Homo sapiens: one gene and its partners. The protein of the gene in region 2 purifies or fractionates together with the protein of the main gene of each other region. This does not show direct contact. Each region holds a gene or a part of one and is shown on either strand. Other genes may lie near its edges.

What was found.
Region 1: the proteins of LRRC36 (region 2) and TBL1X purify together in Homo sapiens (affinity purification with mass spectrometry; 2 studies listed by BioGRID and IntAct, with this or other methods). This does not show direct contact.
Region 3: the proteins of LRRC36 (region 2) and ISCA1 purify together in Homo sapiens (affinity purification with mass spectrometry; 2 studies listed by BioGRID and IntAct, with this or other methods). This does not show direct contact.

Annotation. Positions count from the first base shown.
Region 1 is NC_000023.11:9,468,050-9,475,076, reverse strand, and holds part of TBL1X (F-box-like/WD repeat-containing protein TBL1X), read right to left. Parts: intron 1-7,027. UniProt on the Homo sapiens protein: F-box-like protein involved in the recruitment of the ubiquitin/19S proteasome complex to nuclear receptor-regulated transcription units. Plays an essential role in transcription activation mediated by nuclear receptors.
Region 2 is NC_000016.10:67,329,797-67,336,823, forward strand, and holds part of LRRC36 (leucine-rich repeat-containing protein 36), read left to right. Parts: intron 1-7,027.
Region 3 is NC_000009.12:86,272,520-86,279,546, reverse strand, and holds part of ISCA1 (iron-sulfur cluster assembly 1 homolog, mitochondrial precursor), read left to right. Parts: exon of another isoform or gene 1-1,330; intron 1,331-5,304; coding exon 5,305-5,358; intron 5,359-7,027. UniProt on the Homo sapiens protein: Involved in the maturation of mitochondrial 4Fe-4S proteins functioning late in the iron-sulfur cluster assembly pathway. Probably involved in the binding of an intermediate of Fe/S cluster assembly.

The DNA of each region.
Region 1 (7,027 bases), on a different chromosome or scaffold from region 2:
CATGGCAAAACCCCGTCTCTACTAAAAATACAAAAATTAGCCGGGTGCAGTGGCAGGCGCCTGTAATCCCAGCAACTCGGGAGGCTGAGGCAGGAGAATTGCTTGAACCCAGGAGGCGGAGGTTGCAGTGAGCTGAGATCACGCCACTACACTCTAGCCTAGGCGACAGAGTGAGACTCTGCCTCAAAAAACAAACAAACAAATAACCAGATTTAAAGATTTAAAGCACCCTAGGACTTTTATCACAACTCAATTCCAGTACAATCTCACGTTGATGTCTTTGAAATTCTGAACCATTTCTGCAGCAAAACGCCTAATTCTCCAGAGCCCTGAGGGCATCCGTCAATGAAATCAGCTGATTTATAAACAGAATTCAGTGATTATGAAAACAATGCAGTCATAAAACGCTTAAAAAGCATAGCATTGTTCCAAGGTTTCCTTGTGGACCTGCAAACAGGTACTGTCATCTAGTTCCGAAACAAGCGCATTTTTTCAGCTTTAAAAACAACACGCAAAATACAATAGATCCAGTATGTGCATGGTTCCCTGTTATTGCATATTCTTTCTTCCCTAAGTCAAATCACTAATACCTGTACCTCTGGAACGATGTCCAGTCCTTAAGCTGGTGGATCTCAAAGTTACTTAACGCACATACATGTGCGTGCAAACGCACACATACCTTAGTAGCTGAAGTCAGAGGAAAGGGGAGTACAACTGTGTCCTACCTGCAGGCAGGGACGTTGGTATCACCCCCTCTTCCAGCCTTTGGGGACCTACATCATAAATGTTTCTTTCATCATATATCCTTTTCAGCAAAAAAGTTTTCAGAAGGTGCTCCTAACTCATGTAATTTATTAAATATATAAAATACTCAAGTAACATGCATTTCATGGACAAGAAATATATTTTTTACAAGTATTAGAGATTTTCTTAATGGACATTTTCATAATTTCTTCCTGCATCCCAATAAATCTTGCTGTGCACCTGCCAGAGGGCATGAAACTCACTAAGACCCTTTTGGGAATTAAAATCTGAAACAAGTCATTTCTGTCCCCTGTCCTTCCCCCAAATTTAGAGACTACTGGCTTAAAGGAATTACACTCAGAGTCCCATAAAATTTAACAGAGCATCCCGTGACATGTAATATCAACAAGTATCTCTCCTTGCTCTCATCTGGTCTACAATAATTTCTGTCATGTACTGGACAGGGAAGATTATTCATTCTTATTTTCACGAACTTATGAGCTGAGTGCATCTCAAAGGTTAGGCTTTTTGAAGTATCCTAAGACAGATCCCTGGAAATGGCTGAAGTTGACATAGAACCACTGTGTCTTGAAAATGCAAGCTGAATCTGGTATTTTCTTCATAATCAAATTGGGAATTAAACCAAACCCCCTTCAAAGGTGGGGGACAGAACTGTCCCAAATGAGAACCATTAGTTGGCTGCAACATTCCAGAGCTCAACGTTGAAAACACTGTTCCAATAAGAAAGCATCTTTTCTACCTTCATTTCTAAAGCTTCCCTTTCTCCTGAACCCACCGCCTATCATGCCCCATCTCAATCTCTCTGATCCCATCGGACAAGAACAAACCTAGACAAGAAAAGGAAACAGTACCCGACTTCCTCTGAACAGGTCCTCCAGACTCTCCTGCTACTGTCAGAAGTTGGCAATTGCTGTTTTCAAGTTTATAATTTTGAATTCTTGAGTTTTTATCAACATGGAGCTGGCATTACAGTTGTGTACGATTCAAATGCTTGATAAGATTCTGTTGAAAAAAGAACTGAAGGCAAGGACACAAGTTTATTCTGTTCCCCAAATGAACCAAATGGCAGGGACGTCAATTTCCTATTCAGGGATATCAATTCTCTACGCTTTCGGGAAATACAATCTGAAACTGTGAAGCCACCTGGACTTTTATAGCACCTGGGAATTACCTTTGCACATTGGCACTACCGATTTTTACATGGCAGACTTTGGCGACAGTTCTCCACTCAACTTCATTTCTCATCTTCACATAGATGACAAGGTAACAGTGACAACTAAAGGAGCACAAGCATCCAGGCTGACAATTACCCAATTACCCACAGTGCACCAGAAACTGAAATCACGACTCAGTCCTGCTGAATTTTCCTCCAGTTCTTAAAATTATTGTTTTTTTTTTTGAGACGGAGTCTTGCTCTGTCACCCAGGCTGGAGTGCAGTGGCGCAATCTTGGCTCACTGCAAGCTCCACCTCCATGGTTCACGCCATTCTCCTGTCTCAGCCTCCCAAGGAGCTGGGACTATAGGCGCCCACCACCATGCCTGGCTAATTTTTTGTATTTTTAGTAGAGACGGGGTTTCACCGTGTTAGCTAGAATGGTCTCGATCTCCTGACCTCGTGATCTGCCCCCCTCAGCCTCCCAAAGTGCTGGGGGGCATGAGCCACCACACCTGGCCTCTTAAAATTATTTTATATGGTCTTGCCATATTAAAGTATATGTTGGCCAGGAACAGTAGCTCACAACTGTAATCGCAGCACTTTGGGAGGCCGATGCAGGAAGATTGCTTGAGTCCAGGTGCTCAAGACCAGCCTAGGCAACACAGCAAGACCCAATCTCTAGAAAAAAATTGAAAATTAAAAAAAAAAAAAAAAAGAAAGAAAAAAAAAAAGCTGGACATGCTGACTTGTGCCTGTCGGCCCAGCTACTTGGGAGGCTGAGGCAGAAGGATCACTTGAGCCCAGAAAGCCAAGGCTGCAGTGAGCTATGATCAGGGCAACAGAGCAAGACCCCATCTCTAAAAATACATAAATAAAGTATTTGTTATTATTGATTTAAGGAATAAAATGGCACCATGTACAATAAGCTTCTTTTTGTCCAAATTCCCTTCTATCAGGAAATTCAGACAAGCAAAAATGCTCGCAGCACTGAACAATACTGCACATTCACATGGACTCTAAATCCTAACAACAGGCAGGTCCCTAATTGGAAAGAGTCAAGCCTAAAGGGGACACATGCCCTTCTCTTCTTGCTCCGACATGATGGTGCTGGGGATGCAGTTTCAACAGACCCGAAGGAAGGTTTCAGCGTCTTGGAGAGCTGGCCGGGAAGGTTACCGGGCAGGAGAGAGCCTCACCTCCTCCCTACTCCCATATTCTAGCCTGGGCAGGTGTTCCAGAAAGGAAAGAGCCCTGTGCAGGCTATCTGGGGTCATAATCGGTTCCAGGCTCAAGGGAAACAGGCAGAAAAAACTCTCATGTTTTCTTTAAAGCATTCCGGCTACATCCACCACGATAGGAAAAATGACAAGAATTCAAGGCAGACACCCAGGTCAAGAATAAACACTGTGAGTTTTGCCGTGAGCATTGTTTGTGCTTCTTTCACAGGGTCTCCTGGGGCTGGAGAACTGCCGCACTCCCCGGAATCACTCAGAGGCGCCCAGCAGCACAAAGCGCCTTCTGACTCGCTGTGGGTTTCTGAACTAAAATGCGCAACTAACTTATCAATGTTTACCAAAATATCGCTTATTTTAATCATGGGAAAACTGATACTCTAGGCACCGGACATAAACAACTGTCACTTGATCCCAATGTTTAGTTAACATAAAACCGTCATCCTTAACCAGTCTGAAAAAAACATGGCCTCCCAGACCTTGAAGCAGGGTCCATCTTCCAAACCAAATCTTCACACCTGGGAGGGAGGAAAAGGCTTGAGGCCACTCATCCAGCCCTTTAACTCTACACGGTAGGACATGCACAGGTTCTGTGACTTCACACAACCAGGTAGACCACCTCAGGCAGGACAAAAGTCACCAAAATGCCAGGACAAGGATTATATTAGAAAACATGCCACGTCATGAGATCACAGAAAGCGACATATGGCCCAGAGTAAAACACAGGTTAGCAGCTCCATAGAAACACAGATGTAGGAATTCATTTTTTTATTTCTACAACAAAGGCAAAAACAACTTGATATTTTTAGCCTATTTTATATTTACGTGATTAACCCATTGGGAAAACGGCAAAGGTCCTTAATGAACATGTATCCTGTTTTTAAACTAAAGCCATGACTATAACCTTCTGATACATTTCACATATGAAGTACCTTTTGGTAGGACTGTGCAATAAAGGTGAGGGTAACATCCTCTAAAAGGACATCAGAGGTCGGGCATGGTTGCTCACACCTGTAATTCCAGTAGTTTGGGAGGCCGAGGCGAGTGGATCATCTGAAGTCAGGAGTTCGAGACCAGCCTGACCAACATGGTGAAATGCCATCTCTACTAAAAATACAAAATTAGCCGGGCATGGTGGTGCATGCCTGTAATCCCAGCTACTCGGGAGGCTGAGGCAGGAGAATTGCTTGATCCCGGGAAGCGGAGGTTGCAGTGAGGAGAGATCATGCCACTGCACTCCAACCTGGGAAACACCAATGAAATTCTGTCTCAAAAAAACAAAAACAAAAACACGACATTAGAAAATGTCCCATCTGAAACAATGAGGCATCAAGAACTAACTGGCATAGAACAAAGAGGAAATAAATAGGCCGAGCGTGCTGGCTTACGCCTGTAATCCCAGCACTTTGGGAGGCTAAGCAGGTGGATCACCTGAGGTCAGGAGTTTGAGACCAGCTTGACCAACATGGTGAAACCCATCTCTACTAAAAATACAAAAAAATTAGCCAGGTGTGGTGGCACATGCCTCTAGTCCCAGCTTCTCCGGAGGCTGAGGAGGAGAATCGCTTGAACTTGCGGGCGGAGATCGCGCCACCGCACTCTACCCTGGGCGACATAGTGAGACTCCGTCTCAAAATAAAAGAAAAAAGAGCAAATAACTAAAAGAGTATAATTGGATTGTTTGTAACACAAAGAATAAGTGCTTGAGGGAATGGATACCCCCATTCTCCATGATGTGATTATACACTGCACGACTATATCAAAATATCTAATGCACCCCATAAATATATACACCTACGTATCCAGAAAAATTTTTAAAAAATTTTAAAAAGGAGCAAAGCTTTAGCAGCCTCAACAACACACCTGATGTTTTTCCACTGTGGTTTCTTACATTAAGGAGCAAAGCTGTTTTTTCCTTGCTTGTGATAACATCTACAGTGCAAAATGTGCTGTTCTAAGAAAAGCGGTTGGCCAAAGCACACAAAGGCATGAAGTTCATGTGTCATCAGAGAGAGGAGGCAAAGGTGGTACTGGAAGAGCGGATGGATTCACCTAAGGCATTCCACCATGTGTTACATTCAGATGGGATCCCCAAGACTTCCAGAGCAGAGCAGATGGCTGGGTGCCCCAGATTCGGGGCTGGGGGGGGTGACTGTGGAGGAACTGTGGGAGACAGAGCCATGAACATCTCTGGGCTGAGGAGATTGTTCTCTCTCCTGATGATGATGGTGGTCACACCAATCTATGCATGTGTCAAGACTCATAATGCACCCAAAGAGACAAACTTACCATATGGTAATTTAAATAATAAAATTATATAGATACAGCCCTAAAATGTAAGAGGGAAAAGATAAGGAAAAAAACAAAGCAAACTACTAGACACCATCGTGACTGATGGTGATACCTTTCCAGACCCAATTCCCAACTTCAGAAAACAGGAAACTATAAGCATGTTAGGCTAGCCGGGCGCGATGGCTCATGCCCATAAGCCCAGCACTTTGGGAGGCCGAGGCGGGAGGGTCGCCTGAGGTCAGAAGTTCGAGCCCAGCCTGGCCAACATGGTGAAACCCCACCTCTACTAAAAATACAAAAATCAGCCGGGTGTGGTGGAGCATGCCTGTAATCCCAGCTACTCAGGAGGCCGAGGCAGGAGAATCGCTTGAACCCGGGAGGCAGAGTGAGCCGAGATCGCACCACTGCACTCCAGCCTGGGCTGTGAGAGAGACTTCGTCTCAGAAAAAACAAACAAACAAACAAAAAAGGCATGTTAGGCTCCAAGCATTATAATAATTCTATGTCGGTCGACTGAGTAAAGTGGCTCACACCTGTAATCTCAACACTTGGGGAGGTCAAGGAGGAAGGATCACTGGAGCCCAGGAGTTTGAGAGCAGCCTGGGCAACACAGTGAGAGCCTGTGTCTACTAAAAATAAAAATAAAAAAATTGCCAGGTATGGTAGTGCGCATTTGGTACTCCCAGCTACTTAGGAGGCTGAGGCAGGAGAATTGCTTAAGCCCAGAAGGTTGAGGCTGCAGCTAGCTATAATAATTGCACTGTCTCAAAATAAACAAATAAATAAAAACTAAATGAGAAATATAATAACTCTATCTCCTTTAATACAAGGAGCCTGGGAAATCTCTCTCTCCCTCTACCCGACCCCTATATATATAATTACATATATATATATATACTCCTACCCACCTCCTCTCTCAATGAGAAAATTAATGTTAGAGAAGTTCACTGATTTGCCCAAAGCTCCAGTCAGTGCACGGCAAGCTAGCTGCAAACCAGGTTTCCCTCATAGCTGTCCCCAGCGCCCAAGTTCAGCGGGAGCCCAGATTCCCCATGACCAGGCAGGGCTTGGGGCACCTCTGGGGCTCACTTGGACGTGGGGGCCAAGGTCCCGCAGCAGGACCACACTCTGGGAGCCCTTTTCCTACTGACACTTGGAAGAGGGCCTCCACGAGGAAAATGCAGGTCCACACCCAGCTGGCTCAACCTGTTTGCTAATTTAACAGTTGCAGGAAGGGAAATGTCTCCAGACATTGGCAAATGCTCCCTTCAAAAGTGGGGGACAAAACTGTCCCAAATGAGAACCATTAGTTGGCTGCAACATTCCAGAGCTCAACGTTGAAAATACTGTTCCAATAAGCAAGCATCTTTTCTACCTTCATTTCTAAAGCTTCCCTTTCTCCTGAACCCGCCGCCTATCATGCCCCATCTCAAATCTCTCTGATCCCATCGGACAAGAACAAACCTAGACAAGAAAAGGAAGCAGTACCCGACTTCCTCTGAAAACTCAACATATTCTCTCTTCCATCTTAACTTTAAATTTGTTCCAATTCCATTTGTAACGGTTTCCAATTCACTTCTG
Region 2 (7,027 bases):
AATCCCAACTACTTGGGAGGCTGAGGCAGGAGAATCGCTTGAACCCGGGAGACGGAGGTTGTAGTGAGCTGAGATCGCGTCACTGCACTCCAGCTTGGGTGGCAGAGCAAGTCTCCATCTAAAAAATAAAATAAAATAAGAATCCGTATATGGTCCATATATTGCAATTGGTTGATGTATGTCTTAAGTCTTATTTGATCTGTAGGCTCCCCATTTTTTTTCCCTCGCATTTTCAATTGTTTTTGAAGAAACTGGCTTTGAAAGAGTTTACTATAACCTGAACTTTGCTCATTGCATTCCTAAGATGTTAAACATTTTCCCGTGTTCCCTGTACTTCCTATGAATTGGTAGTTAGATGAGGCTTAATCAGATTCAGGTTGGATTTTTTTTTTTTCACAAGACGATTTCATAGGTAATGGTGTATGTTTATGTTAGGAAGTATATGGTGCCTAGTGTTCTTTCTTTTCGTGATATCAGCCACTGAATATGATTACCTAAGTTAATTCATTAGGGATTGCAAAATGGTAATTGTCTATTTCTTTCATTTTTCTTCATTAACTGTAATACTTCTATAAAGAGAAATTTCCTCACATCAACTGTTTGCTTATCCTGAGGTACAGTTTGTATAGGAAAGGCAGCATAAAAGCTTGATTTGTTTTCACCTTATATGCCAGCTTTCAGAATGATGAGTTATTTTCTTAGCATTCTCCAAAGGTGACCAGTGAGGACTGTTTTGCTTTCTCAGTATCATTATAAACTCATCGATTTAAATATATGTCTTAGGGCTGGGCATGGTCGTTCACGCCTGTAATCCCAGCATTTTGGGAGGCCAAGGAGGATGGATCACCTGAGGTCAGGAGTTCAAGACCAGTCTGTCCAACATGGTGAAACCTCATCTGTACTAAAAATACAAAAAAAATTAGCCCGGCATGGTGGCAGGTGCCTATAATCCCAGCTACTCAGGAGGCTGAGGCAGGAGAATCACTTGAGCCTGGGAAGCAGAGGTTGCAGTGAACTGAGATCGCACCACTGCACTTCAGCCTGGACGAAAGACTGAGACTCAGTCTAAATAAATAAATAAATAAATAAATGTCTTAGTCCCTTTTCTCTTGTCATAACAGAATACCATAGACTAGGTAATTTATAAAGAACAGAAGTTGATTTGGCTCATGGTTCTGGAGGCTGAGAAGTCCAAGAGCATGGTGCCAACATCTGGTGAGGGTCATTCCATGGTGGAAGGGCAGAAGGTGCATGTGTGAGATGTGAGAGAGAAAGAGAGAGAGAGAGAGAGAGAGAGAGAGAGAGAGAGAGAGAGAGAAGACTGAACTAATTCCTTTATTAGGATAGCTAACTCCCGTGATAACTAACTCCATGATAACAGCATGAAGCCACCGTTGACCTAATCACCTCTTAGAGGCCCCACCTCGCAGTGCTGTTACATTGGCAATTACGTTTCAACATGAAAGCTGGGCATGGCGGCTTACACACTTTGGAAGGCCAGGGAGGAGGATGAGGCCAGGTATTTGAGACCAGCCTGGGCAACACAGCAAGATCCTGTCTCTACAAAAAATTTAAAAATTAACTGGGTGTTGGTGGTGTGTACCTGTAGTCCCAGCTACTCAGGAGGCTGAAGTGGAAGGATCCTCTGACCCCAGGAGTTTTAGGCTGCAGTGCACTATGATAGTGCTACTGCCCTCCAGCCTAGTTGACAGAGCAAGGCCCTATCTCTGAATAAATTAATACATTTCATCATGAGTTTTGGAGGGGACGTTCAAACCATAGCAATATATTTCAATGTAAGTTTTAATCCATTATAGTTCTTATCATAATTGATGTTCAGTTTATCCTAACTTTAGTTAATAGGTGATCTTTCAAGTTGACTCCTGAGGTCTTTTTAAAAAAGTTTTATGGCCAGGTGTAGTGGCTCACGCCTGTAATCCCAGCACTTTGGGAAGCCGAGGGGGGTGGATCACCTGAGGTTGGGAGTTTGAGACCAGCCTGGCCAGCATGTTGAAACCCCATCTCTACTAAAAATATAAAAATTAGCTGGGCGGGGTGGCACATGCCTGTAATCCCAGCTACTTGGGAGGCTGAGGCAGGAGAATCGCTTGAACCCTGAAGGCGGAGGTTGCAGTAAGCCAAGATCACACCATTGCACTCCAGCCTGGGCAAAGAGAGCGAAACTCCATCTCAAAAAAAAAAAGAAAAAGAAAAAGTTTTATTTATTAGAAACATTCATTGTCATTATAAATAAGCTTTGTTAAAGGTTGTTAATTCAATTTCCAAATGAGCTGTAAATGGTTTTCATTAGAGAGACTACTTGATTTGTTATTTTCAAATAGCAAATTTTTGCCCACTGGGGTTATGTAACCCATATATTAAAATTGGAAGATCATTCTTTTATTCTTGGCATCTATGCTGTGCAGTGTTTGATTTGTTCTCTGATTTGTCTTCACTCTTTATAAACACTGAAACGGCCAGGCGCGGTGGCTTACGCCTGTAATCCCAGCACTTTGGGAGGCTGAGGAGGGCGAATCACGAGGTCAGGAGATCGAGACAACCCTGGCTAACATGATGAAACCCTGTCTCTACTAAAAATACAAAAAAATTAGCTGGGCATGGTGGTGGGCGCCTGTAGTCCTAGCTACTTGGGAGGCTGAGACAGGAGAATGGCGTGAACCTGGGAGGCAGAGCTTGCAGTGTGCCAAGATGGTGCCATTGCACTCCAGCCTGGGTGACAGAGCGAGACTCCGTCTCAAAAAAAAATAATAAATAAATAAATAAACACTGAAACGAAATGCATAACCTCTTAAGACATGCATTCATGTGAATCATTAAAGAATGTTTGTCTTTGTGGCAGTTTATCATTTTAATAATTCACATTCCTTCTTAAAATGTTAAAATGTCTGCTCTTCAAAATAGACTGCAGTGAAAGGCATGAGAAATGCTGTGGGTCATTGATGGAAACCATAATTGTCCTTAGCTTTTGTCCCATGTTAACAGACTCTCAGGGTGTTAGATCATAACATACCACAGAATTACCAATACACTGCCCTCAAAGTCAGGAAAATTTTATTTATTTATTTATTTTATTTATTTATTTTTTTTTAAAAAAAACATGGTCTTATTCTGTTGCCCAAGCTGGAGTGCAGTGGCATGATCATGGCTCACTGCAGTCCCGACCTCCTGGGCTCAAGCAATCCTCCTGACTCTGCCTACTGAGTAGCTGGGACTACAGGTGTGCACCACCATGCCCAGCTAATTTTTTCTTTTTTTGTAGAGATGGGTGCATTTTAAAAAGATATAATTCACATACTATAAAGTTCACCGTTTTAGTATTTATTTATTTATTTTGAGATAAGAATCTTGCCCTATTGCCCAGGCTGCAGTGCAGTGGCCCGACCTCAGCTCACTGCAACCTCTATCCCAGGTTCAAGTGATTCTCCTGCCTCAGCATCCTGAGTAGGTGGGACTGCAGGCACGTCCCACCATACCCTGCTAATTTTTGTGTTTTTAGTAGAGACAGGGTTTCACCATGTTGGCCAGGCTGGTCTTGAACTCCTGACTTCAAGTGATCCACCTGCCTCCGCCTCCCAAAGTGCTGAAATTACAGGCATGAGCCACCACACGTAGCCCCATTTAAAAAATATACAATTCAGGGTCATTTTGTACATTTACAATGTTGTGCAAGCATCATTGCTACCTATATATAGTTCCAGAACATTTTCATCAACCCATTAGGCAGTCACACCTCATTTCCCACTACCCCTGGCTCCTGGCAACCAGTAAACTGCTTTCTGTCTCTGTGGATTTGCCTCTTCTGGGTATTTCATATCATTGGAATCATATAATATGTAGCCTTTTCTGTCTGGCTTCTTTGACTTAGCATAGTATTTTCATTATTCATTCATGTTTTAGCATGTATTAATACTTCATTCCTTTTTTAAAAAAATTAATAGACTTTATTTTTTAGAGCAGTTTTAGGTTTACAGAGAAATTGGGCATAAAGTACAGAGAGTTCTCATATACGCTTACCTTCCTTGCACCTCTCCCCACCCACCCCGTTTCCCTTAATTTTAATATCTTGCATTATTGTGATATATTACAATTTATGAACCAATATTGATGCGATTATTAACTAAAGTCCATAGTTTACATTAGAGCTCATTTTTTGTGTTGTACAGTTCTATGGTTTTTGACAATTATGTCGTGTCCACCATTATTATTATTATTTTTATTTATTTATTTTTTTGAGATGGAGTCTCACTCTGTTGCCCAGGCTGGAGTGCAGTGGCGTGGATCTCGGCTCACCGCAAGCTCTGTCTCCCAGATTCACACCATTCTCCTGCCTCAGCCTCCCGAGTAGCTGGGACTACAGGTGCCTGCCACTGTGCCCGGCTAATTTTTCATATTTTTAGTAGAGACCGGGTTTCACCATGGTCTCGATCTCCTGACCTCGTGATCCGCCCGCCTCGGCTTCCCAAAGTGCTGGGATTACAGGCGTGAGCCACCGCGCCTGGCCGTCCACCATTATTTTTTATTTTTTGAGGCAGAGTCTTGTTCTGTTGCCCAGGCTGGAATGCAGTGGCACGATCTCGGCTCACAGCAACCTCCGCCTCCTGGGTTCAAGTGATTCTCATGCCTCAGCCTCCCAAGTAGCTGGGACTGCAGGCGTGTGCCACCATGCCTGGCTGATTTTTGTATTTTTAGTAGAGACGGGGTTTCACCATGTTGGCCAGGCTGGTCTCGAACTCCCAACCTCAGGTGATCTGCCTGCCCCAACCTCCCAAAGTGCTGGGATTACAGGCATGAGCCAGCGTGCCTGGCCAGTCGTGTCCACCATTATAATAACAGTTTTACTAACCTAAAAATCCCCTGTGCCCCACCATCTGTTTATCCCTCCCTCACCCCAAACCCCTGACAACTATCAGGTGAAATTCACCCCCGATATTTCACGTAGGCTCTTTTCTATTTTCCCTAAGTGTCGGCCGGCCTGAGAAATAAAGGGACAGAGTACAAAAGAGAGAAATTTTAAAGCTGGGTGTCTGGGGGAGACATCACATGTCAGCAGGTTCCGTGATGCCCCCTGAGCCATAAAACCAGCAAGTTTTTATTAGTGATTTTCAAAAGGGGAGGGAGTGTACGAATAGGGGGTGGGTCACATAGATCACATGCTTCACAAGGTAATAAGATATCACAAGGTAAATGGAGGCAGGGCGAGATCACAGGACCACAGGACCGGGGTGAAATTAAAATTGCTAATGAAGTTTCAGGCACGCATTGTCATTGATAACATCTTATCAGGAAACAGGATTTGAGAGCAGACAACTGGTCTGACCAAAATTTATTAGGTGGGAATTTCCTCGTCCTAATAAGCCTGGGAGCACTACGGGAGACCGGGGCTTATTTCATCCTACAGCTGTGACCATAAAAGACATCTGCCCCCAAAGCAGCCATTTTAGAGGCCTCCCTTCAGGGATGCATTCTCTTTCTCAGGGATGTTCCTTGCTGAGAAAAAGAATTCAGCGATATTTCTCCTGTTTGCTTTTGAAAGAAGAGAAATATGGCTCTGTTCCACCTGGCTCACCGGCAATCAGAGTTTAAAGGTTATCTCTCTTGTTCCCTGAACATTGCTGTTATCCTGTTCTTTTTTCAAGGTGCCCAGATTTCATATTGTTCAAACACACATGCTCTACAAACAATTTGTGCAGTTAATGCAATCATCACAGGGTCCTGAGGCAACATACATCCTCCTCAGTTTACGAAGATGACGGAATTAAGAGATTAAAGTAAAGACAGGCATAGGAAATCACAAGAGTATTGATTGGGGAAGTGATAAGTGTCCATGAAACCTTCACAATTTATGTTCTTCTGCCATGGCTTCAGCTGGTCCCTCTGTTTGGGGTCCCTGACTTCCCGCAACAGACAACCACTGATCTTTTTTTTTTTTTTTGAGACAGACTTTCGCTGTTGTTGCCCAGGCTGGAATGCAGTGGCACGATCTTGGCTCACGGCAGCCTCCACCTCCCGGGTTCAAGCGATTCTCCTGCCTCAGCCTCCCGAGTAGCTGGGATTACGGGCATGTGCCACTACGCCCAGCTAATTTTGTATTTTTAGTAGAGACAGGGTTTCTCCAGGTTGGTCAGGCTGGTCTCAAACCCCCAGCCTCAGGTGATCCGCCCGTCTCGGTCTCCCAAAGTGTTGGGATTACAGGCGTGAGCCACCGCACCCGGCCCAACCACTGGTCTTTTTATTGTTGCCTTTTTCAGAATGTCATATAGTTGGAATCATATAGTATGTAACCTTTCAAACTGATTTCTCTCACTTAGCAATATGTATTTAAGGCTCCTCCATGTCTTTCCGTGGTTAATAGCCCATTTCTTTTTATTGCTGAATAGTATTACACTCTGTGGATGTACCATTGTTTGCTTATCCATTTACCTATTGAAGGACATCTTGGTTGCTCCCAAGTTTTGGTAATTATGAAGAAAGCTGCTGTAAACATTCATGTGCAGGTTTGGGTGTGGACATAAAGTTTCAACTTGCTTGAGTAAATACCAAGGGATTTACTTGTGTTTAGCTTTGCAAGAAACTGCCAAGTTGTCTTCTCAGGTGGCTTCACCATTTTGTATTCCCACCCCCAATGAATGAGAGTTCCTTTTGCCCCACATCCTCACCAACATTTAGCATTGTGAAAGTTTTAAGATTTGGGCCATTCTAACAAATTTATAGTGGTATCTCATTTTAATTTGTAATTTCCTAACGATTTATGATGTTGACCATTTTTTTCATATGTTTGTTTAGTGGAGTGTCTGGTTTGGGGTTTATTTTTATTGCTTTTTAGAGACAGGTTCTTGCTATGTTGCCCAGGCTGGACTTGAACTTCTGGACTCAAGCAATCCTGTCTCAGCCTCCCCAGTAACTGAGACTACAGGTATGTGCCACTGCATCCAGTTTTTCTTTTGCCTACTTTTTTTTTTTTTATGGAAATAGGGTAATCTTACTTTGTTGCCTAGGTTGGAGTGCA
Region 3 (7,027 bases), on a different chromosome or scaffold from region 2:
ATGTGTGGAGTCTACCAGATGTCAACAAAAGGCTAGGAAAAGTAACTGATAATATAACACAGTTCAATGCTGTCATTATCAGATTATCTACATCTTCCCTATTTCCCTACATATCTAGAAATTGACAAGTGGAATTGAACTTGCAGGAGCCAGATGTGATTAAAGAATCTGAAGAGTAAATAGTGCCCTGCTTGCAGACAGATTTATTTCCATCATTGTACAAGTCAGAGCAACTCTAATTTGTAGGACTGGGGTGGATCACAGCTGTGCATTAAAACTCAACCAAGTTCTATGAGAGAATGATGGTGCACAGCCACTATCATTCTTGATGAATTCATTGTGTACGGAAGGTGCCTTAGGGCTTAACTTTCTATTGGAGTCCAGTTGAGAAGCTAGGAAATGCTTAATGCTCAGTAAGGAACTGTGTGTTAGTTCATTGGACTAGAACCAGAAGTCCTTTTGAACAGTGACCAAGCACTAAGATTTCTATACGAAGGCAGTTTAGGAAATACTACACAAGAAGCACTGGAAGTAGCCTAGCAGTCTAACAGTGAAAGAACGGTTAAGTACGTGAGAGTAGATCCTGTTGGTGAAGGATGTAGTCATTGTAAATTATGGTTTTTTTTAAGTTTCAGCGTTATAAATCTTCATTCTTTGACTTATGCTGTGCAAATTATTTAATCTTTAATACCTAAATCACAATGGCAGGAATAAAAAGATGTTACGTTTAAACCATTAAACACTTAGAAGGTGCTCAGTAAATGGTGAATATATGTTTATTACCATGTATCAAATGAAAAAATAATTTGTTAAATTGTTTCAATGGAGGCTGCAAAATTATGTATATATGCCATGATTACAAACCTTTTTCTTTTTAGAGACAGGATCTTCCTCTGTCACCCAGGCTCATATGCAGTGGCATGATCATGGCTTACTGCAGCTTCAAACTCCTGGGCTCAAGCAATCCTTTCACCTCAGCCTCCCAAGTAACTGGGACTACAGGCACATGTCACCTTGACTGCTAATTTTTTTTTTTTAATTTATTGTAGAGACAGGGTCTTGCTCTGTTGCACAGGCTGGTCTCAAACTCCTGGCCTCAAGCCGTCCTCCCACCTTGGCCTCCCAAAGTGCTGGCATTACAGGCATGAGCCACCACACCTGGCCTACAAATATATATTTGTATATTATATGTATTTTGGATGTGTATATACACATATACACAAATAAGAAAAGACAAAAGAGAATGCTTTTGTCTTTTCTTATTTTGACACTCTAATGCCAGCCATGGCTGTTAAAGAATGATTTTAATAAAATACACTGTACTTGTTCACTGGCTCTATTTATTTACCATCTTTTGTTCCCCCAGAAAATTGATATGTTGACATTAAAATGCCATGTTTGTAGAGAAATTAAGTTGTAGTTGTTGGCACATGTTTAGTATGCATAATCACAGAGTTAACTTTAGCTTTGAATTTAATTTAATTTTCTTAAACAGCAAAAAATGAAAATTGCCTGGGGAGTTACTTAAAGAAATACAGGATTGAGAATGAAAAGTTTCTCCTACAAGGATTAGAAAGCGTGTTGCTATGAAGTAGTGATAAAACATTCATCTACAATGCCTTTTCCCTTAATTTTAACAGCGGAAACATCTTGGAAATATATTTATTTTTCAATTAGGCCAAAATACCTTACCTCAAAGATAACCTCTCACTTTAAAAGTCATATTCCTGTGATTTGCATGTGAGTAAAAACCATCATATTTTAGTGGGCTTCAGGAAGCTCTTAAATTTTAAAACATGGGCCAAATCTCAGGTAAGCTATATTCATTAATAGTACATAAATTTCTTGAGAATTACATGTTTCTTAGTTGTTCTGGGAAGTGCACTGGTACTGGCAGGCTGCTAGGCCCTGCAGCATGCTGTGTAGTTGAAGATTTTATGCTGTTTCTCACATGAATTTTACCTAAGCACAAAGTTGCCAGAGTATGTAGACTTAAAGCAGGGTAGGATTCTTAGCCTCTCCCTGGTACTGAGACACAAAAAGTACCTCTTATAGCTCGATTTTTTTTAAGTCCCAACTCTTCCCTTTTAACCACTCTCCCTTGTTCTGAAAATCAGATCAGTCACTTTGAAAGTTCTAAGAACCTTTTCCCTTGGTTGAGTACTGACCTGGGTTGTCCATCATTAGTAACACCCTCCCAGTGGAGTAGGTTTGGTTTTGGCCTGGCACAGGAAAATTAAGACATATTTTAGTTCCTGTAACAGCAGCTTCCCAGGCACACAGGTTCCTGTTGAATGTTACTTTTCCCTTAAAGAGTCCTTCAGTATGAGATGTGAACATCAGCAACTTGGTGATAAGTAGACCAATCCCCACGAATTGCTTTCATTTACTGTATTTAAGTGTTTCCTGCTAAAAGTTGAGAAAATAAGAAAATAGATGACTTTGTAAAACCAAATTAGATAATTTAGAAAACCACTTGGAGATAAAAAAAATTATATATTTGGGGCTGGTAAACGGAGTAGTGTGACAGACACATTTGTTTTGTTTAGATCATGCAGTGGTGTGCCCATCTGTGCCTTTGATCCACTCAGATTAAACCAAGACCACGTTTCAGATTTTAGTTCCCGCGGATATTTTCCATGGCTATGCCTTTTTTTTTTTTTTTTTTTTTTTTTTGAGACAGAGTCTCACTCTGTTTCCCAGGCTGGAGTGCAGTGGCATGATCTCGGCTTACTGCAGCCTCCGCCTCCTGGGTTCAAGCGATTCTCATGCGTCAGCCTCCGGAGTAGCTGGGATTACAGGCGCATGCCATCATCCTCAGCTAATGTTTGTATTTTTAATAGAGACGGGGTTTCACCATGTTGGCCAGGCTGGTCTCAAACTCCTGACTTCAAGTGATCCTTCCACCTTGGCTGACCTCAAGTGATACTTCCACCTCGGCCTCCCAAAGTGTTGGGAATATAGGCATGAGGCACCAGGCCCAGCCAGGCTATGCCTTTTTAAAATAAACTTACAGAAAGCTATTTTTATTTGACAGTAAGTGATTAATTTCTTCAGCATGCACATAGGAAAATATGGTGAAAATTTACATGTGGTTGATAAGAAAGCTAGCTTTTATTGACAATCACTTAGAACAGGGGTCCCCAGTCCCTGCGCTACAGACTGGTACTGGTCCATGGCCTGTTAGGAACAGGGCCTCACAGCAGGAGGTGAGAGCAGCAGGCAAGCCAAGCATTACCACCTAAGCGAGCTCCACCTCCTGTCAGATCATCAGGGGCATTAGATTCTCATAGGAGCACAAACCCTAGTCTGAACTGCAGGTGTGAGGGGCTAGTTTGTGCACTCCTTATGAGAATGATGCCTGATGATCTGTCACTGTCTCTCATCACCCCTAGATGGGGCCATCTAGTTGCAGAAAAACAAGCTCAGGGCTCCCACTGATTGTATATTTTGATGAGTTATATAATTATTTCATTATATATTACAATGTAATAATAGAAATAAAGTGCACAATAAATGTAATGCATTTGAATCATTCAGAAACCATTCCCCTTATCCGTGGAAAAATTGTCTTCCACGAAACCAGTCCTTGATGCCAAAAACATTTGGGACCACTGCTTTAGAAGGGTAATGAGCACTTTAAAAAATAATAACTATTTCTGTAACTATTTAAAGTTGGTATTCTGTGACTCAAAAAACAAAAACAAAACCATAATCCTGCTCTTCCCTGTTTTCTCCTTCCACCCTGTGTGCTACTTCCTGCGTTGGAGGACTGCATGCCTCCTTTTCTGACAGAACCATGGGAAACCATGGGCCTTTAGAGGCCCACCTACTGGTAGTGGTTTGTTTTTTTACAGTGACATGTAATAAGAAATGTATATACACAGATACTATATATTAATAACTGAATTAAAAGTTTTACTAAACAACATTCACGTTTTTAAGTGCAGTGCATTGTTTTCTATTTAAAATGTTTAAGACATGTTGGTCTTCACATTCCAAATTGCTTTCATGCCCTTCTAAACTGGGTCTGTACTGTGTTTAAGCATGCTCATCTAGCTGAGCCCCAACCCCGACAGGGCAGGAGAGCACACTCTAGGGCCATCCATTGGGCTGGCTCTTCCAGGTGTCAGTCCTGGCCTCAGTTTACTACCAAGTCTTAGGTCGTAATATCCAGACTTTGAGACTTCACAAGCAGTCTCAAAGACTTTACTGTACAGTAAAATGTCAGTACAAGGGACTGGAGGGCCTGCAGAGCACTGCCAGCTAGAGGAGCTGATAAAGTAGGAAGGACGCACATAATGTCTTCATTATGATGTACTCTCATAATCATAATAATACTTGGTATTTTTGTGCCTGGCACTGTCCTGAATGCTTTCCATGAGTTTAAATATTTAATCCTCACAAGAATCAGGAGGAGGAGGAACTGTTATCCCTGTTTCACCAGTAAGGGAATAGAAGTCAGAGAAGCCACTTAGGGTGACTGCCCTGGAGGCACAGCTAGGAAGTGGGCCAGGAATGTCGGGGAACAGTCTCCTTCCCAAAGAAGTGGGGTTGGCAACACCGACCTATTTCACACAAACTGTGATGTTTTTCTCATTTTGAGGCCCGCTGAGCTATGTTAAAACAGCATTTCTCTGGGAAACAGCTCCTCCTTGTTCTTATTTCTGTCATTGACTAGCTTAGTTTTGTTCATCTAGATCTCCTGAGATGTTGGTTTAATCCACGTTGAAAAAAATCTATGTGAGCATTTGGTGGGACTGGTGCAAGAAGCACACCCTGGGTTATTTTATGCTGGTAACACTGTTTCCTCAAGCTATGCATTTTGATGGATTAGAAATGGATTGTGAGTAAGAAAAAAAAAAGCAGTAGGATTAATAATCAACAGGAAAAACACCTGAAGGTTGGCCTTCCCAGTGAGATACTTGATTCCTTCATTGGCTCTTTGTCGTAGGCAACATGCTGGTTCCTGGGCATAGAGTTGGTGCACAAAATAGATGCTGCCCAGAAAAATAGCATTTGTAATGTGAGTGAATAGCACCATAGAGAGAAGGACAGGGAACCAACCTGGACTGAGGAGCAAGATTAAAAGGATGTTGCTAGCAGATTTTTTTTTTAAATAAAGAGGATATTTTGAATTAGGTATAGTTTATGTGTTTCTATATAAAGTCCATAAGGTACCCTGGCAAGAATGGAACATAAATTTGTCACATGAATTTGCTAAAGACAGACTTACGAAGACTGATAAATATGAGGCTTTGAATAACAAGTTTTGTAGCTAAAAACATCATTTTCTTTTTTCAGACACCTTCAGCAGTAAACAAGATAAAACAACTTCTTAAAGATAAGCCTGAGCATGTAAGTAAAACCAGTTAATTATTCAGTAAAAAACTGAAGCTGCATTTTCAGAATGAATTTATCCCATGATATACAGTATTATTTCATTTAGGGGTTTTTATTTAAAATGTAAAATATACTCAGGATTTTTAAAAAATTCAAATAATACAAAAGGGTATTTAACTAAAAGGAAGTCATTCTTTCAACCTGACTCTTCGTCGTCATTCTTCCTTCCAAGAAGCAATCTCTTTGGTATCCTTCCAGGGATAATGTATACATTTGAAGCGGCTAGACCTGATTTTCTCAGCCTCCTCACAGTTGACACTTTAGGGCAGATTGTAGAATGTTTGACAGCATCTGTGGCCTCTGTCCATTAGATACCAGTAGTACCCCCTCTTTGCCTCAACCAAAGAATCCACATATGTGGAACCCACCGATACGGAGAGGTGACTGTATAGAGTAAAAGTATGGTGAGTACTATTTCACCAGCAGTTCCTGATTCCACAAAGCTTTGGTTGTCACAACCAAAAATGTCTCCCTGAGGGCAACCACTGGCCTAGACTGGGCTTGTTATTCCTGTGTATATCTCTTCCTACCATAAATTTTTTTGTTACACTTTGCTTTTTACCCTTAATAATGGCTTGAAGATCTTTCCATGTCATTATGTAATGATCTGCCTCCCTTTCTTGGCTGCATGTAGAGTATATTCCATTGAACAAGTTTGAGTTCTTTAACCAGTCCCCATATTAAAGGGTCGTTTTCATTCAGTGCTGCCGCAAACACCATTCAGCAACTATTTAGTGTCTGCAGTGTGCCAGGCTCATTGTTCTAGAACTGTAAGCATGGCTTAGTCCACCTACATAGGATCCATTCCTAGATACAGAATTGTTGAGTTAGGGATGTGTGTATCATCTTAATTGTACATTGTTAGTTGCCGATGGAATGCTGTAAATCATTTCAAGTAATGGATTGCAATATTTAATAATTAGACGGTGGGGTGATTTCTGGTTTCTGTTGTTAACCTACTACATTACAATGTAATGGAAGTTCTCAAACCTACCTTTTAAAATTATTAAATTTCAAAGGATATCAGTGTTCTGATTCAATTTGGATAGACCGATGAGTAGACTACAAATTGGCCTAATGAAACAAGAATTCGGCTTTGTAGAATCAGGAACTGCTGGTGAAATAGTACTTATGATACTTTTGCTGTATACAGTCACCTCTCCGTATCTGTGGGTTCCGCATACGTGGATTCAATCAACCATAGGTCAGAAATATTTGGGAAAAAAATAGAAGGTTGCATCTGTATTAAACATGTACAGACTTTCATTCTCTAAACAATACAGTATAACAACTGTTTATGTAGCATTACATTGTTACAGGTATTCAAGTCCTCCAGAAGTTATTTAAAGTACAGGGGAAGATGTATATAGGTTATATACAAATGCAGTGCCATTTGCATAAGGGACTTGAGTATCTGCAGATTTTTGTATACTCAGTTAGTCCTGGAACCAATTTCCCATGCATACTAAGGGATGACTGTATTTAAATGAAAAATCAGCTCAGCTCTAAGACAGAGAACTTAGGTAGATACTGTTTGAAAATTGCATTAATGTAAACATTGATACTTTTAAAGTGCTGTTTGGTCACTTTTTTAAACTTCTTTTGTCTGTATTGACTGCAGTCT